Regions from separate parts of the Homo sapiens genome. Here regions 1, 3, 4, 5 and 6 are each reported to be linked to region 2. The links are microRNA targets in miRTarBase. Many come from high-throughput screens and were not tested one by one. Region 2 holds a microRNA gene; each other region holds the end of a gene's coding sequence.
The links. The annotated mature microRNA hsa-miR-4748 reads GAGGUUUGGGGAGGAUUUGCU and lies in region 2 at 1,984-2,004, opposite strand. An mRNA with a match to its seed (bases 2 to 7 or 8) in the 3' UTR can be bound and repressed. Matches are read on the target gene's strand: a 7mer-m8 pairs with bases 2 to 8, a 7mer-A1 pairs with bases 2 to 7 and ends in A, and an 8mer does both.

Region 1: the mRNA of SLC16A7 is a reported target of hsa-miR-4748. The part of its 3' UTR that is shown has no 7-base or 8-base seed match.
Region 3: the mRNA of DDX4 is a reported target of hsa-miR-4748. The part of its 3' UTR that is shown has no 7-base or 8-base seed match.
Region 4: the mRNA of NOX5 is a reported target of hsa-miR-4748. Seed matches in the 3' UTR shown: 7mer-m8 at 918-924, 8mer at 981-988 and 7mer-m8 at 4,221-4,227.
Region 5: the mRNA of KANSL1L is a reported target of hsa-miR-4748. Seed matches in the 3' UTR shown: 7mer-m8 at 4,121-4,127.
Region 6: miRTarBase lists SLC2A6 as a target of hsa-miR-4748. Seed matches in the 3' UTR shown: 7mer-m8 at 4,111-4,117.

What each region holds. Positions count from the first base shown.
Region 1 is chr12:59,779,167-59,784,240 of GRCh38, forward strand. SLC16A7 (solute carrier family 16 member 7) reads left to right here. Exons shown (of 6, transcript NM_001270623.2): 6 at 257-5,074. The coding sequence ends at 513. Among named protein-coding and RNA genes, the nearest start is that of SLC16A7, 190 kb to the left of the region's middle.
Region 2 is chr19:10,777,193-10,782,266 of GRCh38, reverse strand. It overlaps MIR4748 (microRNA 4748), which reads right to left and starts at 2,013; the gene lies at 1,932-2,013. DNM2 (dynamin 2) reads right to left here. Exons shown (of 21, transcript NM_001005361.3): 5 at 5,051-5,074. RefSeq lists an enhancer at 4,563-4,912.
Region 3 is chr5:55,815,875-55,820,948 of GRCh38, reverse strand. It overlaps DDX4 (DEAD-box helicase 4), which reads right to left. Exons shown (of 22, transcript NM_024415.3): 22 at 3,792-4,486. The coding sequence ends at 4,409. Among named protein-coding and RNA genes, the nearest start is that of IL31RA, 33 kb to the left of the region's middle.
Region 4 is chr15:69,056,134-69,061,207 of GRCh38, forward strand. NOX5 (NADPH oxidase 5) reads left to right here. Exons shown (of 16, transcript NM_024505.4): 16 at 432-5,074. The coding sequence ends at 563. It overlaps SPESP1-NOX5 (SPESP1-NOX5 readthrough), which reads left to right. Exons shown (of 17, transcript NR_033672.2): 17 at 432-5,074. Among named protein-coding and RNA genes, the nearest start is that of EWSAT1, 22 kb to the right of the region's middle. RefSeq lists an enhancer at 3,848-4,347.
Region 5 is chr2:210,018,476-210,023,549 of GRCh38, forward strand. KANSL1L (KAT8 regulatory NSL complex subunit 1 like) reads right to left here. Exons shown (of 15, transcript NM_152519.4): 15 at 2,946-4,704. The coding sequence ends at 4,474. It overlaps RPE (ribulose-5-phosphate-3-epimerase), which reads left to right. Exons shown (of 6, transcript NM_199229.3): 6 at 1,194-3,785. The coding sequence ends at 1,316. Among named protein-coding and RNA genes, the nearest start is that of KANSL1L-AS1, 8.9 kb to the right of the region's middle.
Region 6 is chr9:133,467,845-133,472,918 of GRCh38, forward strand. It overlaps SLC2A6 (solute carrier family 2 member 6), which reads right to left. Exons shown (of 10, transcript NM_017585.4): 10 at 3,250-4,332. The coding sequence ends at 4,177. CACFD1 (calcium channel flower domain containing 1) reads left to right here. Exons shown (of 5, transcript NM_017586.5): 4 at 77-184; 5 at 719-3,004. The coding sequence ends at 809. It overlaps LOC124902295 (a long non-coding RNA gene), which reads right to left and starts at 723. Exons shown (of 2, transcript XR_007061831.1): 1 at 628-723; 2 at 1-398. RefSeq lists enhancers at 761-920, 1,001-1,050, 1,121-1,170 and a silencer at 1,631-1,750.

The sequences.
Region 1 (5,074 bases), not on the chromosome of region 2:
TGTCTTGTTTGTATATTTTACTGAGAGAAATAATTTTTAGTAAATTTAATGTACTAGTAATATAATACTGTAAGTGTCTCTGCATACCTTTACTAAGCATATGTAGAAGTCATAATCTAGATTTTTTTATTTTTAAAGTCTTATTTGACATTAATTTAAATAAGAGGAATATACTTTGAAGAATAATTTATTTGAATTTTTATCATTATATGACTGTTTTATTATGCCAACTTAAAAGATGTTCTTTGTCTTCTAGGTAAATTGGTGGATTTAACTGGAGAATATAAATACATGTACATGTCCTGTGGGGCTATTGTGGTAGCAGCAAGCGTGTGGCTGCTCATTGGCAATGCTATCAACTATAGATTGCTTGCAAAGGAAAGGAAGGAGGAAAATGCAAGGCAGAAGACCAGAGAATCTGAACCCTTGAGCAAATCTAAACATTCGGAAGATGTTAACGTCAAAGTTTCAAATGCACAGAGTGTAACCTCAGAAAGAGAAACTAACATTTAACAAGAATCACATCTCTGATTTCAGTGTTTATGACTTTATCTAGGAGTTTGTTTTTCATTTTGTTTTTTTAAAGTATTAGAAAAGGTTTTAGCTGAAATGAGGAGTCACAATTAAGGATGGAGGTGATATTTTCCTCAATGGCAAATTTTAAATTAGTTTTTAAAAACTTACTTATTTGGGTAGTTAAATTTTGAGATTATGCATAGAAAGAATCCATGCTATAGGTTTATTTCCATACCTGACTCTGGGTGTGGTGGTTAAAATACTAATTTTAAAGTCTTCCAGTGACTTTCGGTCTTGGTTATATGGAGAATTCTGAATCCCAAACCCCTGGTTTAAGTAGGTAGAAGGAGGATGCCTAATCCTACAAAGTGACCCTTTATACATTTCATTTTTTATTTGATATTAAAGTATGAGATAGAGTTGAGAGACAATTAATTATCCCCTCTTACACACAAACACACATACTCCCACATACTTACCCACATGTACACAGAGTATCTGGAGAATAAAACCCAAATTCAAAAAAAAAAATGATAATTTATTTTTAAGGTAAAAATAATCCATGAAGATAAAAGAAACATATGTCTGCGTGCTACTTTACAATGTTGGTTTTAAAGATAAGCACATGGGTAAAAATGAGGGTGATCCTTATTCAAAAATAACATCTGACTACTATAAAAATATTTGCATATATAAGTTTGACAAAGAAAAGAAAATCAATGTTAAACCATTAAATCTGAGCACTGTTAGACTTGATTAATCCATGCACATGATTTTTTTTGAGTAGGGAGCATTAGTACCTGGTGCTAGAGAATAGAACCCTCAAATAATTTTTAGAATTCTTACCTAATATGTAAAAGTCTGCATGACTCTTAACAATGAGTCACATCCATTGATTTTACAGGGATTTTAGTTCGTAATCCAGAAAGTAATAATCAGGGATTTTATTTTAATCAGGCATCAATCCAGATTCACTGTTATACTGAAATATCAAAGTAAAATCCTAGTTGGCAGGATTGTAAGTAGACCGAATTCTAATTTTTCCCAACACATAGTGGTAATTGGAGGTTACTGTTATGAATACTCCATCTGACTACGACTAAGAGAGTGAGGGGTGGTTTTAATGAACCCTCTAAGCTCTCTCAGTTCCTTCCCTTCCACAAAATGCAAGAGCAAAAGCAAACTACAAACAGGCCTTGTGCTCAACCACTGGAAATGCCTCCTGGGATAAGAATGGCAGCACTTGAAAATTCTGCCCTCTACTGATGAGACTTCCTGCTGCCTTTGGACATAACTAAGCCAGGAAACTTTAAAAGCCTTCTAGAAATAGAGGCACTGTATGACTTGCAATCGTAGGTATAGTTTATAACCTGATAGCAAAAAACTTGAAATATTGCAGCCCAGTTTAATTCAGCACTTTCCCATTTTCATAACTATGTGAAAACATCTGGGAATTTGAATCACTCCTGAATACAGAGGCATATTCTTTTTAAACTATAAATACCATTTTGAGTGAGAAAGTACTTTTAAACAAGAAAGAAATTGTACATTATGACTAAAGTTATAAATACAATATTTATATCTATAAATCTGAAGTTTAACATGATTAATTTAAAAAGTATTTAGTGCTTGACAAAGTAGTGTCACTCTTAAGATGTCAAAGGGAATTAGCCATTTTTTTTATTGTAATAAAGGCAGGTGCTATTTTTTTCTGGTGAGATTGCACCTGGATACCAGGCTTTTGTAATAGTTAACATTAAACATTTGATTCATAAAGTTAATTCACTGCTTAAGCATGTGGCTCATATTTAGGAAGCTATATAAAATTCAGTTTTTCATTTAACATTTGCTCTTTTGCATATGAAGAGATATTTGTATTTTTCAAATGTTAAGTAAAACAAGATGTGCCAATATCATAGGTAAATAAATTAGGGAAAATGTGGGACTTTATGGCTGTTTTTAATTTAGTTTCACCCGATCTTGATTCTTGAATTAGCTATGTTTATATTTTTAGTTCTTTTTTATTCAACTCAGATTTGTCAAGAAATGTAACCTCTAAATTGTGTAGTACCTCTCCAATCATAAATTTTCAAAAAAAAATTCTACTTTCCAAAAAGTGTCTTGAATTCTCTGAAAAGGCACATTAAACTAATATGAACATCAGATACCAGGGGGAAATAAATGGCAAAGTAATAATCATGAGGTTTTAGGTCAAAGACTACATTATATATATTTTTTATTACCTTCTAGTAGAGACATCCTCCTGGGTGCATTTCAGTGGCCTTCTCCAGGGAGGAGGTTTATTTACTTACTGATGAGTTTCTCGTCACGTCAAAACCAGTTCACATTTGTCTGGCTGCTCTTTGGTTGTCTTCATTCGTTATTTATTTCTAACACTGTATTAAATTGTTAGAAAAGAAAGTAAAACTTGCACATTCAAAGCACATGATTTGTACAGTCACACCTGGCAGTAGCACTGCACAGTTACAAATATGCACACACGTTAACTGCTATGCATAAATATTGACAGTTAAACCAGAACACAATTGAAACAGTGACATAAATACCTACAGGATTCAGAATTGTTCCAGGGTAATATAAATTATTCTACTTGTTCACTCTCCCCACCCTCTTGAACTTGTTAGAAGATTTGCTGCTTTAGCAGAATCTTTCCAAGATTGAGAAAAGTGTATCAACCTAGGATTTTCATTACTATATAGTCACATAAATGGAGGAGGAGATATATTTGGCTTCTGCCTCTGCAACAATTAGTATGAACATATTTCTTTCTCTAGGGAATAATAGGTTTTAAACATTTGAGATATCATGAAGCAAAGTCAGGGTATACCACTACAATCCCCACTAATCTCTATTCCCACATTATGAAATTGTACAGAAGAAAGGGTGTCATTAAATCAAGGTATCCAGATAATTCATGGCTACTTTAACTATTTTTTCATTCGTGTTAACTGAGCCCCCCATATTTTTTACTACTTAACCTTAAATATGCCATCACTAATTTATGAATAGAACATTGTGTTTGCACTTTTCCTGACCTATCCTCACCCCCTTTCCTGATCCTTTTTGCATTCACCTAGCACACCTTAAGAGACAAAAAATCAGGTTTTAGTGTATTTCACATTGGAAGACATGATGTTTTCTCAGTATAAATCTACAGGACTCATAAACAATCACTTTTTTGGTGCCAAGTTTCAACCCTTTAGCTCATGGACTCATTGGCCTCAGCCTAATACTAAGAAACAAGTAAAATAATTAGATTTTCTATGTTTGAATGTGCACTTTAAAAAATCTAGATAATTTATACTCATTCTTTTCTGGCTGTACAACATGACAATCAAGAATATAGAAAAGAAGACTAAAAGATATATGATATAAATGTAAGTTTTTATGTAGATGACATAAATATGAAGAGATATTCTTGGTCAGTTGGTTGAAACATTTTTTATCTAAAACACCTTTAAAAAATCCCTTTCATATGTAGAATGTGGAAGGCTTTTAATAAAACAAAAATTATTATTTTTAGGCTTAATTTAATAGGGAGATTGGATGCATAGTGGAAAGGGAACTAATATTTATATGTTATGCATTTTGCTTATGTAATGCCTTTCAATATGAAAACCAAAACCATGGCAGAATTATTACTAGCTTGATATGACAGATGAGTGAAAACAAAAAACAAGCTCAGCAGACTACCCAAAGTTAAAAGGTAGTATGAACCAAAATTAAAACTCAGGTTTACGTAACCAGAAAGATCCCCGAGGTGTTCACTACCGTGCTGCCTCCCAATAGAGGCCAGAGAAGCAAAGGAAGATAAAATATAGGTACAAAAAAGATACATCCTATATAGTAAAACAATTAGGTTTAACTGTAACTTGTATTATGATTTATTTAGTGTTTATTAGAGAACTGCATTTGCTAGAACCTGAATATGTAATTTCTTTCTTTCTTTCTTTTTTTTTTTTTTTGAGACTGAGTCTCGTTCTTGTCGCCCAGGCTGGCGTGCAGTGGCACAATCTCGGCTTACTACAACCTCTGCCTCCCAGGTTCAAGCAATTCTCCTGCCTCAGCCTCCCGAGTAACTGGAATTACAGGCATGTGCCACCATGCCCGGCTAATTTTGTGGCTTTTTTTGTTTTGTTTTGTTTTGTTTTGTTTTAGTAGAGATGGGGTTTCTCCTTGTTGGTCAGGCTGGTCTTGAACTCTGACCTCAGGTGATTCACTCGCCTCTGCCTCCCAAAGTGCTGGGATTACAGGCGTGAGCCACTGCGCCCAGCCTTGAATATGTAATTTCTGATTGCCTGCTTTTCTCCCCAATGCAAATTATCTCAAATAATGATAATTATTACATATAGACATAATTACTTCAATATGACTCTTTTTCTCATAAAAATAATGACATATTTGAGTCAGGCATAATACATTTTTTCTGAGGTTGGAGTTAGCAGGAAAATGTTATCTTTTATGAATAAATAATTCCCAGATTGGTTGCTACATATCATGATTCAAAAAGTAAAATAATTACCTGGATGTGGTGATG
Region 2 (5,074 bases):
AGCCCAAGAGTTCCAGACCAGCCTGGGTAACATGGCAAAACCCCATCTCTACAAAAATATACAAAAATTAGCGAGGCGTGGTAGCACACGTGTATAGTCCCAGCTACCTGGGAGGCTGAGATGGGAGGATCACCTGAGCCTGGGAGTTCGAGGTTGCAGCAAGCTGTAATCACCCCACTGCACTCCAGCCCGGGCAACAGAGCGAGGCCTTGTCTCACAAGAAAAAAAAGAAATAACATCTTAAAAACAAGAGCAATAGGGAAGAGCTAAAATCCACTATCAAACGAGTATATTTTAAACAGTTGGGTACATCAGGGTATTCATGTCCAGAGAGATCAATGGAACTGAAAAGAAAGTCCAAAACTACACCGAGAAGGAGGTAGAACTGAAAGTTAACGCTTCAGTATATGGGGGAGAAAAGCTGGATAATTCAATACACACTGTTGCAAAGAATCCAAGTGGAATGCCTACCATTGCACTCCTGGCTAGGTTTTTGTTTTGTGGGGTTTTTTGTTTTGAGACAGAGTTTCACTCTTGCTGCCCAGGCTGAAGTGCAGTGGTGCAACCTCAGCTCACTGCAACCTCCACCTCCTGAGCATCTGGGATTACAGGCGTGCGTCACCACGCCTGGCTAATTTTTGTTTTTTTAGTAGAGACGGGGTTTCACCATGTTGGCCATGCTGGTCTCGAACTCCTGACCTCATGATCTGCCCGCCATGGCCTCCCAAAGTGCTGGAATTACAGGCGTGAGCCACAGTGCCTGGCCTGTGCTCCCTTTTCTTTGTAGTGGGGTTGTGCATGTTTCTCTTGAGAAGCAAGGGAGAGGTGCCGGTCATCTATCCTGTAGGGTCTTGTGGGATGTGACTGCTCTTCATCCTCGCCAGATCTCTCTTGGATCCAAGAGGGAGGAGGGAAACGAAGACATGCCAAGGTGAGGTCACAGTAGGAGACCCAAGATCTGAACCTAGATCCCTGTGAAGCCAGAGTCACCATCACCTGTGTGACAGCACAAAGAAGGAAACAGCAGGGGCCAGTAAAAAGCATCTGGCTTGGATTTGGCTTGATTTACTTAATTAAGAGATGGAGTCTCGCTCTGCTGCCCATTCTGCATTGCAGTGGCACAATCATAGCTTACTACAGCTTTGAACTCCTGGGCTCAAGCCATCCTCCGGACTCAGCCTCCTGAGTAGCTGGGAGTACAGGCACGTGCACCATCACACACGGATTTTTTTTTTTTTTTTTTTTTTTAAAGACAGAGTCTCACTCTGTCACCCAGGCTGGAGTACAGTGGTGCAATCTCAGCTCACTACAACCTCTGCCTCCTGGGTTCAAGCGATTCTCATGTCTCAGCCTCTCGAGTAGCTGGGATTACAGGCATGCACCAACACACCCAGCTAATTCTATTTTTAGTAGAGCTGGGGTTTGATCCACCCGCCTTGGTCTCCCAAAGTGCTGGGATTACAGGCGTGAGCCACTGTGCCCAGCCTGGATAATTTTTTAAGAGAGAGATGGGGTCTTGCTGTGTTGCTCAGGCTGGTCTCAAACTCTGGGCCTCAAGCCATCCTCCCAACTGTGCTTTCCAAAATCCTGGGGTTATAGGCATGAGCCACCACGCCTAGCCTGGGTTCCCGTAAAGGAGGAGGAGTTGTGAGTCATTAGTACGCCAGGAAAAAGGGTCCAGTGGGAGGGCTTCTGAAGCCTGAGGTCACAAAACGGGAGCAGGCCTACAAGTGAGCTGAGAGTGGAAGCGCCTTCGTTCTTAGAAACAGGAAGGAAGGCAGAGAAGGGCAGCTGTGGACATCAGTGAGTCAGGAGGAAGGGGAAGAGGCCCATATCACCAAATCCTCAGCCTGGCTAGTGCCCACAGACCCCAAAGGCCCTTAGGATCCAAGATGGAGGCCTAACAGTGTCCAAGGGCAGCCGGGTCGGGGTGGCTGTAGTAGGGCGTGGGGTTGGGTAGGGTCTGCTTTCCTCTCTAGCACCAGCAAATCCTCCCCAAACCTCAGCCAGCCACAGATTTGCTTCTCAGCCCCGGATCTTCACAGCTAAACAGGGTTTTGAATTTAGCCCTGACAGCATTCCCCTGGGATCCGGGGTCGCCTCACCACTCAATATCTCAGCAGTGCTGGGGGATGCTGGCAACCAAGGTCTGAACTTTTCCCCACATCTATCTCAGACATCGAGGTGGAAAACCCAGGAGTAAAAGAAATGCTCTAAATGACTGCGGCTAAGCATGAAGGGAAAGGCAGGAGGTGCCCGCAGCTTAGAGTAGATGCCAGAGGGGAGGAATGGCTTTAAAAAAACACAAAAGAAGGCTGGGCACGGTGGCTCATGCCTTTAATCCCAGCATTTTGGGAGGCTGAGGCGGGTGGATCACATGAGGTCAGGAGTTCAAGACCAGCCTAGCCAACATGGTGAAACCCCATCTCTACTAAAAACACAAAAATCAGCTGTGTGTGGTGGCGAGTGCCTGTAATCCCAGCTACTCAGGAGGCAGAGGTTGCAGTCAGCTGAGATTGTGCCCCTGCACTCCAGCCTGGGCAACAAGAATGAAACTCTGTCTGAAAAAAATAAAACAAAACAAAATAAAACCTAGCCAGGAGCAATCGCACATGCCTGTAATCCCAAATACTTGGGAGGCTGAGCTCGGAGGATCACTTGAGCCTGGGAGTTTAAGGCTACAGTGAGCTATGATTGTCCCAGTGCACTCCAGCCTAGGTGACAGAATAAGACATCGTCAAAAAAAAAAAAAAAAAAAAAAAAAGAAAGAAAGAAAGAAAGAAAGAAAGAAAAAAACTTATAACAGCAAGAGTGAACCCTGATGTCAACCATGGATGTGGGGTGGGGTGGTGACAATGGGTCAACGCAGGCTCATCAGTTCTAGCAAATGCACCGCTCTGCTGGGCACGTTGAAAGTGGGAGAGGTTACAGATGTGTGGGCTATAGGGCTGATAGGAAATCTCTGTATCTCCCTCTCAGTTTGGCTATGAACCTAAAACTGCTGCTCCGATAAAATAAAATGCTTGAAAAATTTTTCTTTTTTTTTTTTTTTGAGACAGACCCTTGCTCTGTGGCCCAGGCTGGAGTGAAGTGGCGCCATCTCAGCTCGCTGCAACCTCCACCTCCTGGGTTCAAGCGATTCTCCTGCCTCAGCCTCCCGAGTAGCTGGGACTACAAGTGTGTGCCACCACGCCTGGCTAATTTTTTGTATTTTTAGTACAGACAACATTTCACTGTGTTAGCAAGGATGGTCTTGATCTCCTGACCTTGTGATCCGCCTGCCTTGGCCTCCCAAAGTGCTGGGATTACAGGTGTGAGTCACCATGCCCGACCCAAAATATTTAAAATATTTTTAAAATAAAATAAAAAATACTTAGGTTACTCCTATCAGAAGATCTGTACCTGAACTTGAACCTGAACCTGATCTAATTACCAGCTAACAGAGAACAATAATTGGCCAAATCCCAAATGTGGGATGTGGTCTGGTTTCTTCCACAAATGAATGGTATAGAAAAAAACAAATGGGATGGCAAGGGGAAGTATTTGAAAAGAAATGTGGGTATTTATGTGTAAAATGCTACAATGCCTAGGATTTATAGAATTTTTTTTTTTTTAGAGGCAAGATCTTGCTCTGTTGTGCAGGCTAGAGTGTAGTAGTGTGATCATAGCTCACTGCAGCTTCGAACTCCTGGGCTCAAGCAATCTTCCCACCTCAGCCTCTTAAGTAGGTGGGACTATAGGTGTATGCCACCATGCCCAGCTAACTTTTTAATCTTTAGTAGAGACAGGGACTTGATATGTTGCCCAGGCTAGTCTTGAACTCCCAGCCTCAAGGCATCCTCCTGCCTCAGCCTCCCAAAGCACTGAGATTACAGGCGTGAGCCACCTCGCCCAGCCAGTGCCTAGGATTTGTGTTAAAATCTTCCAGGAAGATGGCCGGGTGCGGTGGCTCACACCTGTAATCCCAGCACTTTGGGAGGCCGAGGCGGGTGGATCACGAGGTCAGCAGTTCGAGACCAGCCTGGCCAACATGGTGAAACCCTGTCTCAATTAAAAATACAAAAATTAGCCACGCGTGGTGGCTGGCACCTGTAATCCCAGCTACTCGGGAGGCTGAGGCAGGAGAATGGCATGAACCTGGGAGGTGGAGGTTGCAGTGAGCCCAGACTGCACCATTGCACTCCAGCCTGGGCAACAGAGACTCCGTCTCATAAATAAATAAATAAATAAATAAATAAATAAATAAAATGAAAAAATAAAATATTCCAGGAAGAAAATAATAATAATAACCACCGAAGCTGGGGAAGCCATCCACGAGGATTCTTTGAACTTTTTTCCACACTTTTGGGAATGTTTGAAAATGCTCATAATAGGCCGGGTGCGGTGGCTCATGGCTGTAATCCCAGCACTTTGGGAGGCCAAGGCAAGTGGATCACCTGAAGTCAGGAGTTTGAGACCAGCTTGGCCAACACAGTGAAACCCCGTCTCTAGTAAAAATACAAAAACTAGCTGGGCGTGGTGGTGCCCACTTGTAATCCCAGCTACTCAGGAAGCTGGGGCAGGAGAATCAGTTGAACCTGGGAGGCGGAGGTTGCAGTGAGCTGAGATTGTGCCACTGTACTATAGCTTGGGTGACAAGAGCAAAAACTCCGTCTCAAAAAACAAAAAGGAAAAGGAAAAGGGAAGGGAAGGCTCATAATAGAAAGTAATAAAAAAATTAATTAAAGTTATAAACCCTGGGGAGCTGGGAGCTGCAGATTCACCAGTGGCTGTCTGGGGGAAGTGTGGCTGCGGGTGAGTTTAGTTTCCTCTTTCTATACACTTGTTTTCTAATGTTTCAGAAACCAGCAGGTGTTAATTGTGCACTTGAAAAACGAATGCATACAAATCAGAAGAAAAAGATACATAGCTCAAAGGGAAAAGAAAGAAGGAGTTACGGTGAAATGGAGAAGCAATGACTTCCAGGCAGGCAGGGAACAGGTGCTGGGGTTTCAGTAATGATAAGGACCCCACCCATCCTCCTGCTTCCCCAGCACCCCCAAAGCCACACCTCTTCTCAACGGGAGCAACTTGT
Region 3 (5,074 bases), not on the chromosome of region 2:
ATCTTGAGTTGCATTAAATATACCTAACGGACCCTTACAGTGGTTAAACTTACATGACTTTTTGACTTTATGATGGTGTAAAAGCGATATGCATTCAGCAGAAATCGTACTGTGAATTTTGCTCTTTTCCCAGGCTAGCAGTATGTGGTGGATGGAGACTGTGATGATGGGCAGCAGCAGCCAGACACAGCTTTTAGCCAGCCATGAGACCACGAGTGTAAACCACCCAAACGCTAAAGCATTCTGTGTGGATGCCCAAGTGCTTATTCTTGAGCCTCACCAGAAGAGAAATTGATTGCCCTGTCACCGTGGCATCCCTGTCATCCAGCAATTCTAGATGTTTCAAACATTCTTTGGCCCAGTGTGCTTTCAGCTGTGTACGTTAATGGTGAGTGCCCATATACAACCAGTTTTTCACTTTCAGTATTCAATAAATGAGATGAGATATTCAACACATTATGAAATCGGCTTTTTATAGACGAATTTGCCCAACTTTAGGCTAATGTAAGTGTTGTCAGCACGTTTAAGGCAGGTTAGGCTAAGCTATGATGTTCAGCAGGTTTAGGTGTATTTAATGGATTTTTGGCTTACTGATATCTTCAACTTACAGTGGGTTTATCGGGATGTAATTCCATTGTAAATTGAGAAGCATGTGTACCTACAACTTATAAAATGATCAAGGGTTAAGATATCTGACACCAAGCAGCAGAAAAACAAATGATCAACATAAGACATGATTTCTTAGGTTAAATTCCAGGAATTTAAAAAGCACTAGTAAAGCAGAAAATTCACTATTATTAAGCAACATTTAAACATATATAGAGTGAGCAAGCGAGCTCTGGAGAATTAAAAACAATTGCTAATAAAACGGTTGAAAGTAAAAAATATATACTAGAATATAAAAGATGAAAAAAACAGGAAAGATACAATAGAGAATTCAGTTCTGGAATCTAATAGAAGCTCCAAAAATAGAGAACAGAGAAAACTTGGGAAAAAAATTATCAAATACAAAAAACACTCCTAGGGACCAAGAAAAAAAAAAAAAACAATTTTCAAAGCACCCTGAGTATCACACACAAGTCGCATTCATCATAAAAGTGAAGACAACCAATATCTTTTGGGATCTTTTAAGAAAATTAACATCAAACCTGGGAAGGTAATATGAAAAATGCATGATCTGTCTCCTTCAAAACAAAAAAACACTACAAACAGGGTAAACAAATTGCTCAAAAATTGTGTGATCCAAATTCAAAGCAAGCTGGTATGTGGAATGGCTTTGGGCAGTTTTCATTTGACCCTGACACTTCCCATTCTCCCTGCAGACACAAAAGTCATAAAATTAGGAAGATAGTAAAGGTGAGGCAATCAAGACTGTGTGAATTGGCCCATCCAGTGAACAATATTTATATAAACACATGCTTTTGATTTTCAATTCTGGAATCTGTGTATATAAGGGAGACTTTATGGTTATAGAAAATGCAAATGTTAACTTGGGAAATGTAAATGTGCAGTTTACAGATGTTATGACATACAAATAGAGGAAAGGAAAAGGTGCCTTTAAAATCATCTCACAGGTATACTTCTACGGCGAGTCAGAGATGTGAGTTAAATCTTCATATATCAAAGTCAACAGACGTTCTGGTTGGTGACATAAAAATACAGGTTGAGCATCCCTAATCCAAAAATTCAAAATCCCAAATGCTCCTAAACCTGAAACCTTGAGCACCAATGTGATGCCTCAGATTGTCCACATGTGACTAAGATAGTGACACCTTAGTTTTCAGACAGCTCAAGGTACACAAACTTTGTTTCATGCACAAAATTACTTAAAATATCAAAACTTATCTTCAAGTTGTATATGAGGTATAATGAAACAAATGAATTTCATGTTTAGGCTTGGGTCCCATCTCCAAGATCTCTCATTATATATTATGCAAATATTCCAAAATCCAAAAAAAAATCTGATATCTGAAACATTTCTGGTCCCGAGCATTTCAGATAAGGGATACTCAACCTGTATATGATGGCAGTGAACAGAAATTGTTAATAATAGCTGATTGTTGGATGTGGAATGGCAATTTGGAAGGGGAGGGGCAGAAAAATATTGCTTTCTATTATAAATGCTTCTATGGCATTTTCTTTTCTAATTTATGCATGTTACTTTGATAATTTTTAAAGAGATGATTCAAACCTATACCTAGAAATGAGGAGAGTAATTAAACATAGGGACATTTACAGTTCATCTGTAATGGTGGTAGATGTATGATACATTTCCTTTCCTTTTTTATATTTGATTCAGTAATGCTACTATGGTAATCTGACAAATCAAGCAAAAGCTTAAAAGGAATCAGTTCAGAGGGAGCAATCTGTTAAAAAAAAAAAAAGCAATGAAAAAAATGAGACAAGACTGGCCTATACTCTTCCTAAACGAAACTAGAAAATTAAGACATACAGATATTACAAATAACAATCCAAACACCTTCATTCATTTAGCCTTTCCCAGAAGTGAGATAACAGAAGAAAAGTGAAATATGTCCCATATTTTTATTAATTGAACTTCCCTTTTTGAGTTTTTCTTGTTGTCAACATTTTTTCTTTTTATTATTATACTCGAAGTTCTAGAGTACATGTGCACAACATGCAGGTTTGTTACATATGTATACATGTGCCATGCTGGTGCCCTTTTTGAGTTTCTATGTTCTTTGTATTCTTCTATTAGTATATCCACATATAAAGAACACTGATAACCACTGTGGTCACAGTAATATTTTTCCTTGTCTACTTTTCACTATTTTTTATGTAGGCAACTAATCTTTCCTTGAGTGATCAAATCTGTTGTTTCTTTTTTGATTTCTGTTCCTTAGCTTAAAGTCAACCCTTCAAAGGGTTAATATTTAACTATTAGCTTTAATATTTTATAATTCACATGAAGTTAATTTTAAATATGGCATGAGGTAGGCATCTACCCAGTTATTCTAACACTATCTGTTGATATGCCTTCCTTTTTCATATGTGATGCCTCATTTATTAACTAAATTCCTATAACAAGATATACATCAGGGACATGTCACTTTGGATTGTTTAGGTGAACAGTAACACTTAATACCAATCATTTTTGTCTCCCCAGTATTTACACCTCACTGGGTCTTAAATATTTGGGTTCGTTCATTTAACAATTAATTAATAACTTCGGGCTGGGTGCGGTGGCTCACGCGTGTAATCCCAGCACTTTGAGAGGTGGAGGCGGGCGGATCACGAGGTCAGGAGTTCGAGACCAGGCTGGCCAACATAGTGAAACCCGTCTCTACTAAAAATTAGCTGGGCATTGTGGCGCGTGTCTGTAATCCCAGCTACTCGGGAGAGGCTGAGGCAGGAGAACTGCTTGAACCCGGGAGGCAGAGGTTGCAGTGAGCCAAGATCACGCCATTACACTCCAGCCTTAGCAACAAGAGCAAGACTCCGTCTCAAAAAAAAAAAGAACTTCATTATTCTAGGCATAGTAAGTTCAAGATATATAATGGAAAATGAAGAAAGACAGGGTTCTTTCATCAATCTTAAAATATGAATCAAAAACTTATGGAAAGAGTAAGCAGCATTGTTTTTTGTTGATAAACGGGTTTGAGTTCTAAGATTGATTTTCATTGCCACATCTGTGCAGTAATGTTTATACATTAATATTTAATTTATGTAAGACTTTGTTCACTGCACTGGTTACGCAAGACACAAAAAAACAGTTTCAAAAATATAGGAGTTTGGGCTAGGATATGCAACAAAGAAAAATTTAAAGTGCTGATGGAAAACTTAAGGGAAAAGTGTTTCATCCTTTATTTCAAGGAAAGATTGTATATTATAAAAATAAACATTGTTATGCCATTGAGTACAGAGCTCCCATCACAAACATTTAACCATTTTCATCATACATCTGATGATCTAAAAATCAAAATCACTTTGAAAGGCTTAAGTATTCTACTTTCTCTTAAAGATTATCACATTATAGTGACACACTACTGTTTTAAAGACTCAAGTAAAAATGAGACCCAGTAATTTTTAACCAAAAGTGTATCATATCCTATTTGCTTGTTTTATAAGATCAATAAACACTATAGTAAGACTTGGCATTTAAACATTAAACATGTCTAAGCCCCCTAAAGAATATACCAGAAATAAGAAAGACATTTAGAATGCTTTAATATTCCCAGTTAACACCATTTGTATCAGTAACTGCAATGTTGTAAGTTTTAGCATCTCACATAACTAGTCAGTAAGGATTTTTTTTTTAAGTGTAGGAGTGAGAATACAAGGACAGGAGCTATGAGAATGTTAAGTTTTATACTTCTGTTAAAAACTCAAAAATCAAAACTATTTTCTTCTCTGCATCAAAACCACAGACTTGAAGGATGTTTTGGCTTTAATCCCATGACTCATCATCTACTGGATTGGGAGCTTGTGAAGAAGAAAACCCAGCTGTGTTCAAAGTGCTCTTGCCCTGGTAATTATTTAAAAAAAAAAAAAAAGAAACAAACAAACATTTAATTTTATGACAGCTTTAAAGTTACATCACTCAGACTGAGAGCAAGGACTCAAAGTATCTACCATGTCTTCCCCAAATAATCAAAGAACTTTATTCTCACTAAATCTGATTCACCTGAAAAAAGGCTCCTGTCAAATGAGGAAATCTAAATTGCACAAAATGTTTCAAGAAAAATATTTTTTAAGTCAATAGTTTTGACAAGTGGGGAAAACTTAATGCACTACACTCAATGAATCAGCATAAATATTTAATTAACATGCTCATTGTTTCTGAATAAAGGCGGTGTTCAGCCTATAAAAACCTGACATACCAGAAAAGACTTGTAGCCTCGTGGCTGGGCGCAGTGGCTCACGCCTGTAATCTCAGCACTTTGGGAGGTTGAAGCAGGTGGATCACTTGAGGCCAGGAGTTTGAGACCAGCCTGGCCAACATGGTGAAACCCTGTCTCTATTAAAAATACAAAAAAAAAAAAAAAAAAAACCAGCTAAGATGGTGGCACATGCCTGTAATCCCAGATACACTGGAGGCTGAGGCATGAGAATT
Region 4 (5,074 bases), not on the chromosome of region 2:
GGAAAGACTGACATCAGGAAGGATATTTAAATCACAGCAGGGTGGCCAGCCCTGGGGACTAACACCAGGTTCAGACTCCCATGGGAGTCCCAGAGCACTGTATGCATCTCTCTGCGTGTCTGATTTAGTGCCTGTCTCCCACAGTTGCAGATCCTTGAGTGGAGGGCCTGGGTCTTATTTATTTCTGGCCCTGGTCCTCTACCTGGGGTTCTGGGTCATGTTGCCAGCTGAACAAATGGCTCTTAGTTGAATGGCTGAGTGTTGAACTCTGCTGTAAAACCCAGCAGCTGTGCCATGCAGCTCCCTGTGTAAAATGGGAATGCTCATTGCTGCCGACCCGTTATGCTGTTACCTCCAGGTGGTTGTGTCACTGGTGAGTCAGCAGCTCCACCTATCTTCCCTCTTCTCTTCCTCAACCCCACTGACTCCAGGTGTTCCAGAAAGTGGCTGCTGAGAAGAAGGGCAAGGTGCAGGTCTTCTTCTGTGGCTCCCCAGCTCTGGCCAAGGTGCTGAAGGGCCATTGTGAGAAGTTCGGCTTCAGATTTTTCCAAGAGAATTTCTAGCCTCACCTCTCCAAGCTCTGCCCCAAGTCCACACCATGGGTCTGCTTCATTGCATTAGTATAAATGCCCCCACAGGGACCAGCCTCAGATGACCCACCCAATAAGACAAAGCCTAGGGACCCCCTAATCCTGCTCAACAGAGAGAACAGGAGACCCCAAGGGGCAGATGAACTTCCTCTAGAACCCAGGGGAAGGGACAGTGCCTTGTTCAGTCTGCTGTAGATTCTGGGGTTTCTGTGAAAGTGAGGGAACCAGAGGCTGGTCACGGGAGCTTGGGGGTGGGGTTCGAGGGGGCAGAGGGCAACCACTCCTCCAAACATTTTCCGACGGAGCCTTCCCCCACATCCATGGTCCCAAACCTGCCCAATCATCACAGTCATTTGGAAGCTTATTTCTCCGGCATCTTATAAAATTGTTCAAACCTACAAAAAGTGAGAAGAATCATACAGTGAACAGTGTTACCTACTTTCTAGACTCCTCAGTTAATAATTTGCTCTGTTTATCACATATTATCCATCAGTTCCTCCTCCCTCTTTCCATCTGTCAATTTATCTGATTTTTTGGATGCATTTTCAAGTTAGGTGCAAATATCTCAGCACACCTTGCTACTTGGAGGAGCCTTCTTCAAATGCACATTCCTTGGTCCCACTACCAGAAATTCTGATTCTGATGATCTGGGAATGAAACCTGAAATATGTATTTTCCACCAAATCCATTTGCATAGGGAGAAATAAGCAGCATCTTTCCCTGCCCCTCCTTGTGTCTTTGTCTCCCCATCTCCCTCTCTCCTGGCGCGTCCCTCAGAGCCTCTCTGGGCTCTGTATGCTGGCCTCTTCCTTCTCTCTGTGTGCTGAGTCGCTTGAGAAACAGGATGGAGACAGCCTCTTTGTGTGCCTCTCTCTGTCGTGGAAAGGCCAAGTGCCTGGGGATGAAGCGGGCTAAGCCTGGAAGCTCAGCTCAGCCACACTCTGGCTGTGTGGCCCTGGAAGCTTCCCCATGTCTGTTATTTTCATCTGTGAAATAAGCTGATGCCATCCGTCAGTCACAGTTGCTGTGAGGTGACATGAGACGCCAAGTGCTCAAGACATTCCACCTCAGTTCAGCTCCTTGCTGCTCCAGGCTTTCGTGCATCTACATCATTTCTCTTTATCCTGGCTCCCTCTGTCTCTGTTTTCCAGCCTCTGTTTGCGTCTGTCCCTGTCTGGGCAGGAGGGAACAGCAGAGGCAGCAAAGGCTCTCTCAGCACATACTGTGGGGAGGAGCGGCCCTGGGCAGAGGACAGGGTGGGCCTCACCTCCTCCATCTGAGCTGGACATTTCCATCTGTGCCACACCATGAGCTCCTGTGAGCCCCACATTTCCTGGGCATCCTCCACCTTGCAGTCAGTCCTGATAGGTTCTCTTCTTGACAGTGTAAAGCACCCTTCCCCAAGGCTGCCATCATGGGGTTGGAACCAGGCACTTTCCAATGGGATTGTAGCTGGCACCTTTCTTTTCCATGGGTTGGAAGTCCATGGTTGCAAAGGGGGAGGTAAAGAAGCCGGATCATAACCTGGATGATGATGTCCCTTATCTAAGGTGGGGCTGGGATGCAGCAGTAGGGGTGGGTGTGACCTGCAGGGGATGAGCCAGTTGGGTGGATGGAAGAATGAAGGTGGGGGAAAGCTCTCTTCTGAAAGGGGCAATAGGAAGGGGATGGTGGAGGAAGACGCTGAGGCAGGCCCTGGGAAGGGGAAGGCAAAACATACCCTGAGGACTGGGACAGAGCAGGATGGGAGTGAGGATGTCATCTTTAAGATGTGAGGAGGAACGGGAAGAAGAATACGAGAGGAGGAGTGGGGCCTGCAGTCAAGGAGAGGCTAATTCGGTTTGGGTGGGTGGAAAGCGGGGCTCGTGCTTGCACCAAGCCTCCATCTCCCTGGACTGGGAGTCAGCAAGGCCAGGAGACCTGGTGTTGGGGCCTTCCAACCAGATCGTGTTTAATTTCCAGCAAGCCTGGGGAGGCACACAACTCACCAGGGAAACTCACACCTGGAGTTTTACCAGCCTGAGGCCACACACTCTTGGAACCTCTTTCCCTCTGTTGAGTCTGTACTTTCCCCTCTTCATCAGGCTTGGGAAGGCTTGGACAAAACGCTCTCTGGGGCACAGAAGGAAACTAAAGAGGGTGTTCTGACTTAAGGTTGGAGGATGTAAACAGGCTGTGCCAAATCATTTGGAAACGTGGCAGAATCTGTTTAGCACAGGATGTCTCACACATGCACTCAATGCACACACACACATGCATGTCACCGTTTTGGATTCTTTCCCATCTCTGTCTACACCGCCTTAACACATTTGAGCCCTGCCCTCAGTCCTTTGCCCTCTCGTAACAGATTTCCACCAGGCTCCCACCCGCATATACAAATAGTCAGCTGTTCGTTTAGGACTTAATAATATAGTGGGTGGGAGCAGGTGGAAGGACTTGGACATACGATTCTAAAATCCGTGAATGCCCACATGTGTGACGACCATATGCCCGTGTCCTGAGGTTTTCTCTCCAGACAGATTCCAGTTGCCCACGAGAGGGCGCTGCAGAATCACGGATCTCAAGCGGGTTTGTTTCCCAGGAAGTGAGACTGGTCCGTGAGTGGCAGTTAATCAAAGGGAAAGGGGCTGGGAAGACAACGCCCTGTTCCAAAGCTCCCCACTAGAGGCAAAACCTCCAGGCTCCATCTCTGTGAAGTCAAGAGACTTCATGTTCAAGGTCAGTTTCTCTAGCTGGCAGCTTCTCACTGCCGCTGCCTTCCCCCAGAAACTCTACCCTCCCCATACCCAGTGTCCAGTTCTGGGCTTTCCTCTTTTCTGCTTGCAACAAAATGTCCATCGGTGAGGTCAAGTTGAACTGAACAGGCCTGGCTTGGGGAGAGTTCACAGGTCCAGGTTCTGTCTGCCTCGGTGGACATGTCATCGAAGGCAGCAGGACCACACATGTGAGTGTACAGCACGCATGGTCTGACCATCTGGATGTTTCCCAGATGTGCAGATGGGCATCATCGGCCATCAACAGGAAAATGCATCCGGATGACTGGCTGACTTTTCTTCTCTCACCAGATGTTGCCAATGCTGTAGAAACATCTGGGCCCACGACAGATAAGGCTGACACATGCAAAGAGAAGAGAGAAGGAGCAAGGCCAGTTATCGGCACGTGTGCCCATCCTCCCCCATGAAGCTGCAAACTCCCCAAGGCCAGACATGGGGACCCAAAGCCTAGCACAGAGTGTAGACCAGATGTCGGTTCCTCCCAGGGCAAGGGGTTACTTAAATGGAATTATCCTTACAAAGAGTCTTTTGCACCTAATTGTCACTTGTAATTTGGGGAACAAAAGCACAAACACAAGCCCACTGAACCACTTTGCCAGGTGCCATTGCACTGTTCTGTGAGGACAGCGCTGACGGAGACAGCAGGCATTCCTGAAATGACCAATCAGGCAGGGCCCTCCTGGACGAGCGGCACAAGTGCAGGCTATTAATACACTGAGCTGGGGCATTCGTGGGAGGGGAGGGGGCATGGGCAACATGGAGAGTCACCAGGCTGGCAGACAAGGTTGAAGGTAGGGAGGGATGAGGAACATTAGCCGAGACTGGCTCTGGGCCAACCTGTTGGAGACACAGTGGACAAACCTTTGCCCTCTGGGAGGCAGGGCACTGAGTCCTACACTTGCCTCTGCCACAGTCTGCTGTGTGACCTTGGGTGTATCATTTGACCTCTCTGAGTTCTCACTTTCTTATTATAAAGTGAACAGATCAAGTATGTATGCGTTTAAGCACTTGTCATTTCTAAAAGGATACATGAAAGTATATTTATCTGTGTGCTCTGGGGAGTGGGAATGGAGGGATACAATGAAGGAAAGGATTTTGTGTTTTTGTTTTTGTTTTACTTTTTGCCCTTCTGTAAAGTTTAAGTTTTTATTAATATTATAGTTTTATTTTAAAAAGAAACCCCAAATAGGATGTCATGTAAAAGAAAAGAAAAAACAAGTACCAAGTGTTTGATATAATCCTATTTATAACACAGAAAATAAATGACATATGTATATCATGTGGGGATAAATAGATAAAAATACACGGAAAGACAGTTAGAAGCCAGCCTTAATCTGTCTTGGGCCCAGACAGCCCTTATCTGTTGGGGGCCCAGATGTGTCTACAGCATTGTTAACATCTGGTGAAAGGAGAAAAGTCAGCCAGCCATCCTGATGCGTTTTCTTGCTGATGGCCGATGATGCCCAAATGCTAAGCAGTTCGCAGTGGTTAACTGTGGAGGAGGCAAAGGAGGACTTGAATGTTTTCCTCTTATCTGTTTCCTGTATTTGTGTGTTACCTGAGTAAGGTTTCACTTCCTGTATTACTCATGTGATATTTTACTTTTTAATTTATGTACTTTTGTATGGCTTGTATCTATTTTTTAAGAGTAAAACAAAATGCAGAGATTATCTGCAGTGTTGTCTAAGATCCTGAATATTGATTTGGTAT
Region 5 (5,074 bases), not on the chromosome of region 2:
ATTAAAGCTTACATGACTGCTTTTCTTCCACAGTGTGATGTATCTACTTCCAGGTTCTTGTATAACTGCCACACGTTTCTGCTTGATATATACCTATCAAAAGCTTGACAGTAGTAAATACTTATGCAGGAGGGGCTGGCCAGATGATGAGTGAGCTCATATCCTTTTGATCGCTTGTGGAATTGCTTTGTACTAAACTGTGCTTTGCCAGTATACTATTCCTGCTTTTATGCCAGAGGTAGCAAATTTTTTGTGTGAAAAATCAGACCTTGGCGATGACCTTAAACAGCAGGATATGAAGAACTCCCACAAGCTTAGCGTTCCAATAATGGAACACTAGGCATAAATGGGTTAACTGAAGAGAATATTTGCAGTGTTAACCCTATAAAACTCACCTTTATAATTTCTGTGAGGAATATTGTTAGAAATGTTGTCATACATGAAGTGACACTATCTGTCTGGAAAAATTTTCCTCAGCCTGTGGTTCTCCCACTTCTCCCTCTTTGTTCTAGCAATGAATCACAAAACAGATTGGGTTTCCATCCTTGAATCAGATCCTAGGAAGATCAGAGTTAAATTTGGACCCAATTTTTTAGCTTTTCTTTTTCAATTTCTTTGCTTCCATATTTAAATGTATCTTAAAAACTTTTTTAAAGCCACTTCAAAACCATTCTGAAATGCAATGAAGTATAAAGAGACATTCTATTTTTTGACACAAAAACGAGAACTCACTTAATTTTGCCGTAGTTTATGGATAATTTTACATTTTTAGCAATAATTGTCCTTTCACACTCACAAATTCATATAAATATAATTCAAAGAATAAAAGTGTTTTTTTAGTAACTGTAGAGGCATTGGTGCATATTGGGAAAAACCTTAGTGGACTTGAGGAGTAAAGGCTTTTAAACCTTATCTAAAGGTCGCAAAGATACCATGTAGATTATTAAGAGTTGGTTTACCAGAAAGGTCAATGATTTCTTAGACACATTTAAAAATAGTCTGACATCCTCATCTGTGAACATTTTAAATTTTTCTTATTGAACTAGATTGCTTAAGTCTGCTTAATCTCAAAGTGGCTCTCATATGATTGAAATGTTGACAGATGCAAGGGTAGACACTCTAGTCCAGGAATTCTGTTTTAGGTTTTTCTACATTTTCCTTTGAGGCATAACCTAACTGTTTACTTCTTCCAGGCAGGAGCTAACATGATTGTGTCTGGCAGTGCTATTATGAGGAGTGAAGACCCCAGATCTGTGATCAATCTATTAAGAAATGTTTGCTCAGAAGCTGCTCAGAAACGTTCTCTTGATCGGTGAAACCATAAGGAGCCCAGTGTTCCTGTTCATGAAATCTCCCTTTTACTGGAAAACAGGAATATTGACTACCAAATCACAATGCAATTGAAGCCGTACTGCTTTTTTGAGCAGTTATTCATTCCAGTGATTAAAACTGATTGTGCAGAATATTCTAAGAGGTCAGAAATTGGTGTGTATAACTACATTTTTAGTGATGCAATTTATTGATTAGTGAGTAAGATACTGTTTTTATTGAGAGATTTGATTTTTATAAAGTAAAAATACGGCTGCATTAGGGTTACAAACAGAAAAGTGTCTTAATGTCTAAGGAGGGCATATTAGCTACACTACAAAAACAAATTTTGTCTGTACTTCTGAAAAGAATTTTGTTGTTTCTCAGCTGTTTTCCAAAAGCAAAGGAAGTCTTTATGGTTTTTTTCTATTTCATGTTATTGTGATTTGTTTATAAGTTTGGGTGGGGTGCATACCATATTCTTGGTTCTTAAAATCTATCACTTTTCACCTTACACTTGATGTGTGAAAACTATAAAAACAATGTGTGAAACCCAGGGGTTCTAAAATACAAGCATAGATTTTATCAGGGTGTTTTGTCAAAGCAGGTTATTCAGTGATTCCTCCCCACCATTCTTAAGAACGTTAAATAATGCTGTTGTGTTAGCTCTGAGTAGAAAGGAAAAAGTAAAACCTCTGTTTGGAGGTAATATTGGGTTGAATTCTGACTGCCCCTTTCTAGCTGGACCTTTAACAAATCACCCAATCTTTTTTGTGTTTCTCTAAAGTCATTTATACATTAAATGTAATTATAGCAACTGTGGGGTTCTGTTGAGAATTAAGAGCTAACACTATATATGTAAAGTTTCCAGTACTAGTCCCAGAATTTAGAATATGCTCAACACAAAGTAAACAGCATTATATAAGTTTATATTTTTGTGAGTTATAAAGTACTTTGATATATTCTCATTAAATCTGTAAATCACCTCTATAAGTAAGTGGTAATAATAAAGCAGATATTTTTGTCCCCATTTAAAAAATGAAGAAATTAATGCTTAATAGGGTGGTACCCTGGAAAGGATCTGGGAAGTGGTAGAATTTCTGGTCTGTACTTTTACAAATGGAGCCCTTGGGAGGTGGGTTAGGTAAAAGAAGCTTTTTACTTAACGTTGTCTTATTTCCAGTCTAATTTTACGCTGTAGCAGAACCAGATGGCTGAGAAAATTCTGGAACTATGGATCTTGACCCCAAGGATATATTATTTTATTCCAAGAAAGATCAGGTAGGCGAAAAGATGACAGGATACAGAGTCAATCCATAAACTAAATATTTATAACTGTTCTGAATTATACAGAGTCTAAAAATATGTGTCAGCTACTTCATTCCTGTAAATACTCTTGCTGTGTTATAAATATGGCAAGAAATAAACATGACCAATATCAATAGACTTCTTGAGGCTACTATAAGTTTTGAGAAATAAGGTTCAAAAAATAAGAATGCTAACACTTAAGCACAGACTAGAGCTTGCTTGGGTTTCTTCCTGCATTACAAGGTAAAAATTTGTTAATGTTTGTTTTTATTCAGCTTGGGAAAGCTTTGTGCCATGAATACGTCGCATTTAATAACAAGCAACACACGGCATATAGAAATAACTTTAATTAAAAAACTTACATAGAAGATTATAATATCAGACGTGACAAAGATTTGAGTTTATTTGCCTGGACAACTTGGGTTTGTCTGGCTTTTGTTTTCTTTTTCTTTAAAAATAAATGTACAGTAAAACTACAAGCAAAAGTTTGTCAGTATTGAATTGAATTTTTTACCCCTTAAAAGGACTAGTATAATTTCCAATCTCTAACAAAAACTTAGTGTCAAATCTCACAGATAAGGCCAAATGGCCAATATTTTCAGTTATGTGGGTAGTACAACTTGAGTAACCTTTTTTACATGACAAAAAGTGAGTTATATAAATTGTCCTCAACTTTCACATAGGAAAAAAATGGTTTAATAGCTTCAAAAGGAATTTTCTTTCATGTATACTCTTCAGTATCCAATATTGAAGCTTTGTTCTTTGAAAAATTTTAATTTCCAATCTAGGATGCAAGCAAGAATATATGTTTATTTGAATAGAGTAAGCTATGGCAAAGAATGACCAAATTAGCTAGAAATAGAAATCAGCCAGAATTAACTAATTTCTTGCTAATCTAGAAATACAATCATCTTTTTTTTTTTTTTCAAATTTTATACTGATAGGGCTTTACTGTTTGTGGCTCATTTTAAAACTGGTGTCTTCTCTTCATGAGACACATTAATTGGTAAAACTCAAATTGAGTTTTCAAAGATGTGATAGTATTAAAGTGCACCAATATTTGACTCAAATTTGCTTGCTTTATTTTGTTAGGAGTAAACAGAAAGTAGCCTGTGTTTAGTCCCAAAGATAGCAGTGATTTTGAATAAAGGAGTTTTGTGTTGCCTGGATATATGAATTTCTGTAAATAACTTCTGTTGGTTAAACATGTTAAAACAACAACAACAACAACAAAAAACTTCTGTCTCTATATTCAGGACGTTCAGATGTCTTTTATTAGTGGAAACCTGTGTTTTATCTATTCTGCAGCTTACATTTCATAGGGTAGTTCATACATGCATTTCCAAGGGGAGTGGGTCATTGCCAGTGTTTTAAAAACTACATAGGGGTGTGTGTGTGTGTGTATGTTTATTTTATACACACATATTTGTATATTCTAATATATTACTAAGGCAATTTTAATGAATTACCATGTATATAAAAAAATAGCTGTCACTTGGCACACAGGTTTGTATGTATGTGTATATATATATGTATGTATGTATGGTGTGGGTACATAGTCTTAAAAATTACCCAGTAATGTGATTTGACATCAAGTTGCAGCAATTAATATCTTGGTGTTTGTAAGTAAGTTGCATGATAAACACAAATGACTACCACTTGTCTGTAGATGAAAATCTGGTTACCCTTATGGTTCCAGAAGGAAAAACAGACTTATCTTGCCTGTTTCATAAACAGCATAAAAGATTAATACATGCAGAACATGCTCTTATTCTGGAGGGGATGGGGGATCCAGAACAGGGCTTTATTTCCTCCCATCTTTCCTACATTTACATAGTTTTCTTAACCTGTTCCCTGTCACCTATTTTTTTTAACATTAGTAAGTCCTAGACCAAAGGTTTTGTATTCTTCCATTCCATCTGACTGCTTTTTTGGATGGTGGCCATTCTCTGGTACACTGGTACCGAAGATTTCACCATGGAAAGCTGTGCTTGACCTTTCAACCTGATCCTTTTTTTCATCTTGACATAATAAGGCTGCCATGTCTTCACCCTTCAGTGGAAAAGCCCGTCGTTCCCACCACAAAGACTGAAAGGGGAAAAATTTTCAGTTAAGTTTCAACTAACTTGTTTTGTTTAAATTCATCTAACAAGTAATCTGTACATGTCTATATTGTAATAATTGTTCTGTTCTTTAGCACATAAATGTACAATTTTTCATTTCAACTTAAATAGCAACTCAAAATGGAATATATTGAGAATTGTTGAGTGACTTTTGGGATTTATTTCTTTACTTTGCCTCTGCCAAGAAGAGGAAATGCTGCCATAGGCAGTGGTCTTCATTTCCGACCTAAGAGTACTTTGGGAAAGTGTTCTTAGGTTTGATATACTTCTACAGTATCTTCATTTTCATTATTAAAGGTACCTATTAACTTTTTCTTTCCTGAGCTTTCTGCAAC
Region 6 (5,074 bases), not on the chromosome of region 2:
GCCGAGTCTGGGAAGCGGGGAAGGATGTGGTGGCTGTGGGGCCGGAGTGCCCCCTTGACCTCTGCTTTCCCCCCAGGATGGCGGTCGTTCCCATCGTCATCAGCCTGACCCTGACCACGCTGCTGGGCAACGCCATCGCCTTTGCTACGGGGGTGCTGTACGGACTCTCTGCTCTGGGCAAAAAGTGCGTCTGCCAGGCCCAGCCCCTGGGCAGGGCCTTCCTCCCTCCGCCCCCCGAAGTCCTTCAGTGAGGAGGATCTGAGAGTGGCCCCTTTTAGCTAGTGGAGACCGAGGCAGAGGTCCCAGTAACTCATTGGTGCCTCCAGGGCTCAGCTCGAGTGGGTGAAGACAGAGGACTTACAACACTTCTGCGTGGCCCAGTCTTGCCCCGTCACGGCCTGCAGCAAGGATAGCAAAAACATGGCTGGTGGGAGCCCCTTCCCCTCCCAGGTCTGCACCGGGCATTGTACTCAGTTGCCACCCTCTCTCCTGCAGAGCCCAGACTGAGGCTGGTTCCTTCGCAGCCCAGCATCCCAGGGAGCCTGGGCCATTCTCAGAGGGGACAAGACAGGCCTTTGCCACCCCAGCAGTTGTCTCTGGGGAAATCAGAATGCCTGCAGGTCACACCTGGGTCACAGGGCAGGAACCGGGCAGTGGTCAGGAGGGCTGTGGGCATGGGGCTGGTGCTCCACGTGACGCTGCCTCTCTCTCTCCCCAGGGGCGATGCGATCTCCTATGCCAGGATCCAGCAGCAGAGGCAGCAGGCGGATGAGGAGAAGCTCGCGGAGACCCTGGAGGGGGAGCTGTGAAGGGCTGGGCGCCCCTCCCTCCCTGTCCCCTCTTCTGGCTCTGTGTGGGTCCAAGTGAGGCCTGGACTGTCCACGCTGAGGCACAGCCTGGAGAGGGGCCTTTGCACGTGTCCCTACACCTGGAGTCCTCTGCTCCTTTCTCCAGACTGGCTTAAGCCAGGAGCCACTGGCTGCTGGTGTGAGGGTCTGGGCTGCTGGACTTGAGGCAGAGCCTGCAGCAGCTGTGTGGACACTACCCAGCCCTACTCCTCTGCTGGGTGGGTCTGCAGATCTCACACCACAGACAGGGCTGCCTGTGACCTGCTGTGACCTGGGAGCAGCTTCCCCTGGAGATGCTGGTCCTGGCTTGAGGGGAGGGGCAAGTGGGACCCTGCCACCTGGGCACTGAGCAGAGGGACCTCCCCCAGCTCTCTTAGCAGGTGGAGCCCCAGGGCCTGGGACAGCCTGCCGCTGCCAGCAACCTCCCACTGCTGCCTAGGGTGCAGCGCCCACTGTCACCCTGCCTTCTGAAGAAGCCCACAGGGCTCCTAAGGTGCACCCCGGTACCTGGAACTGCAGCCTTGGCAGTGACTGGACAGCTGGGTGGGGGATGCTCCCTGCTGGCCCTGGGAACCTTGGACAGGCCACCTCAAGGCCCCTCGGCTGCCCCTCCTCCCTGGGCCTGCTGGGGCCCCTAGGTTCTGCCCATCACCCCCCGCCCCTGCTGGCCTTGGTGCTAAGGAAGTGGGGAGAGCAGGCTCTCCCTGGCACCGAGGGTGCCCACCCTCTCCCTGGTGTGGCCCCGTCAACATCAGCCACAGCCCAGCCCCATTAGTGGGTTAGTGGGTCTGACCTCAGCCCCACTCAGGTGCTCCTGCTGGCCTGCCCAAGCCCTGCCCTCAGGGAGCTTCTGCCTTTTAAGAACTGGGCAGAGGCCACAGTCACCTCCCCACACAGAGCTGTCCCCACTGCCCTGGGTGCCAGGCTGTCCGGAGCCAGGCCTACCCAGGGAGGATGCAGAGAGCTGGTGCCCAGGATGTGCACCCCCATATTCCCTCTGCCCTGTGGCCTCAGCCCGCTGGCCTCTCTGACCGTGAGGCTGGCTCTCAGCCATCGGGCAGGTGCCTGGTCGGGCCTGGCTTAGCCCAGGTGGGGTTTGGCAGAAGCGGGCGGGTGTGGAAGATATTCCATCTGGGGCCAACCCCAGGCTGGGCCTGCGCTGAGCTTCTGGAGCGCAGGTACTGGGTCTTGCTAAGTGAACTGTTTCCCAGGAACACCTCTCGGGCCCATCTGCGTCTGAGGCTGGGAGTGGCATCTGAGGCCGGGAGTGGCATCTGAGGCCAGGAGTGGCAGGCTGGTGGGCTGGGCGTGGGGTTTTCTGGGCCCTGCCCAGTACTGCCCTGGGGACTTGGTGGGCTCCTGGGTCAGCAGCATCCCACCCCTGGGAGTCTGGCCAGCTGAGCCCCAGGGTGGCAGGGGCATTATAGCCTGGTGGACATGTGCCTTCAGGGTTCCTCCGGGGCCACCTTCCTCAGGCCAGTGCTGGGTTCAAAGGGCTGTGTGTGTGTGTGTGTGTGTGTGTGTGTGTGTGTGTATGTATATGTGTGTGGGTGCACACATCTGTCCCATGTATGCAGTGAGACCTGTCTACCTCCCACAAGGAGCAAGGGCTCTGCCCGCCCTCTGCTCATTCCTACCCAGGTAGTGGGACCCCGGGCCCCCTTCTGCCTGGCTTGCCTGCTTCTGCCCTTTCCAGAGGGGTCTCACTGACAGCCAGAGACAGCAGGAGAAGGGTTGGCTGTGGATCAAGGAAGGCTGCCCCTGTACCCTGTGGGGAAATGGTGGGTGCATGGCTGGATGCAGAGGTGGAAGGCCCTGGGCCACAGGCGAGAGTGGGCGTGTCACCTGTCCCAGGTTCCCAGCAAGTCTGCAGCTGTGCAGTCCTGGGGTCCCTGACCCTGTCGCCCAGGGGGCGTGCTGTCCAGCAGGGGCCCTGCCTTGCAAGGAACGTCTCTTCCGGCGGCTGGGCCGCTCCTGCCTGGTCTGGGCTGTGTGTGGCGCCCTTTCCTCCTTGTTTGTTCCTCTGTGTTCTGTGTGCGTCTTAAGCAATAAAGCGTGGCCGTGGCTCGCGTGCCTGCCCTCTGCTCCCTTCTGCCTTGGTGCCTGTGTGTGAGTGTGGAAGCCAGGCAGGAGCCGCTGGCCCAGGAAATAACTACAGGTCCTGTCCCGAGGCTGCCCCCAGCATCCCAGACAAGGAAAGTGACCTGCCCAAGGTCACACAGCTAGAAAGAGCCTGTTAAGGGTGGGCCTCGCAGTGGGCTTCCCCTCACTGCAGCCTTTTCCCTGCCCTGCTTTTGCTATGGATCAGCAGTCAGTGGCCCTGGCAACCTTGGCTGGTTCGGGTCTAGCCTGGCTGCTGTGGGGGCTCCTGGAGTAGACCCCACTCTTTCCTCGCTAGGACTACAGGTCCAGTTCCTTTATTTTTACAAAAGGGTGAACACAGTTTGCAGATAGGAGCTGCCTGTTCCCAGAGGTTGGGCTGGGGCAGGAGGAAGTGGCCACGCCAGGTCCTTTGCCCTGGCTTTTTTTTTTTTTTTTTTGGCAGGGGGTGGGGACGGAGTTTCACTCTCGTTGCCCAGGCTGGAGTGCAATGGCATGATCTCAGCTCATTGCAGCCTCCACCTCCCGGGTTCAAGCAATGCTGCCTCAGCCTCCCAAGTAGCTGGAACTACGGGTGTGTGCCACCACACCCAGCTTTTTTGTATTTTTTAGTAGAGACGGGGTTTCACCATGTTGGCCAGGCTGGTCTTGAACTCCTGGCCTTGGGTAATCCACCTGCTTTGGCCTCCCAAAGTGCTGGGATTACAGGCGTGAGCCACTGTGCCCGGCCTGCCCTGGCTTTTTAAGTCCAGGATGTTCCCTGTGGTGCCCATAAGACTTGTGAGGGCAAAGCCGGGTCTTCCTTGCACAGCCAGATGCCACCAGATCAGAGCGCGATGATATGACTACGTTACTTGGCTGCCTCCAGCCCTGTCCTCTCAGTCCTCCCCGTAGCCTTCTGTGGGGCGTGTCCTTCACGCAAGGGAAAGGGACTAGGCCTGAGGTCACCCAGCAGGGCCGTGTCCCTGGATGCAGGGTTGTATGCACTCCTGCGGCCCATGGCTACGTGCAGCACTGTGGGCTGCCTGGGCTGGGGCTGTGGCTGGACAGCAGTGCTACCTGTCCCGAGCCAGGGGCACCCGCTGCTGAGGCCCCATCACACTGCTCTTCCTGTGCTCTGGCTGGTGGCAGGGATGACTGCTGCCTCTTGGTCCCAGGGTGCAGGTTTGTAGCCAACACAGAGGCCCAGCCACTGGGGGTTTGGCCCCCTCCAGGCGGGGACCTTGACCTAGCGCAAGAAGGACCTTCTCCCCGTGCGGAAGAAGGACTCGATCTGCTCCAGGGACCGTCCCTTGGTCTCGGGCACACAGCAGCCTGTGAACACCAGGCTCACCAAGCAGATGGCCGCGAAGAAGAAGAAAGGCACCTGGAGGCCGAAGGTGCTCTGCGGGTGAAGAGCGGGGCCGGGTCACAGGGAGAAGCTCCAGGGTCCTCCTGCCCCAGAGGAGCTCGTGGGCGCTGCTGGTAGTGACCAGCCCTGTGGGGCCTTCATCTGGTCCTTCCTGTGTTCAGAGACCGCCCCCCCACACCAGGGCTCCCCCACTGTCCCCAGGACAAATCCGAAGTAGCCCTTGAAGTCTGCATCCCGTCTGCCCCTCGGCCTTCCTCAGGGGCTGGGCCCTCTGGCGTCAGCTCAGGTACCCCCTCCACACCCCCTACCCAGCGCTGGCATCCCAGCTGTTCCATGCCGCGGCCTGCAGGAGGCCCGCCCTGCAGCCTGGTGGGCACGCAGGTTCTTCTTGGACCCTCTAGGCTGATGGACTCACTCTGGGTTGCCTGCCCTCCCCCAACCCCCCTGCCCTGACCACTGCAGGGACAGCTTAGGCGCTGGCCTAGGCTGCCCTAGCCAGCTTCTCCCTCATGGGAACTTACTCTGGGCCTCACAGATTCTGGCTGGTCACAGGGCCCGTAGTTTTGAACCAGGAGGCAGGGGGAGTGGGTGGGGTTGAGGGGGGAGTGTGGCTGCTGCTGAGACCCAGCGCCCAGGAGGGCGGGAGATGAGGCACGGTGGGGAGGTGGCTTCCGGGGCCCCTGGCAGGGTCCTGGGCCATGTCCTGCCCTGGCCCAGGAGGTAACCTGACTTCCCAGAACAGTTGCCTACGCCCGTTCCTGTTTCTTATAATGAA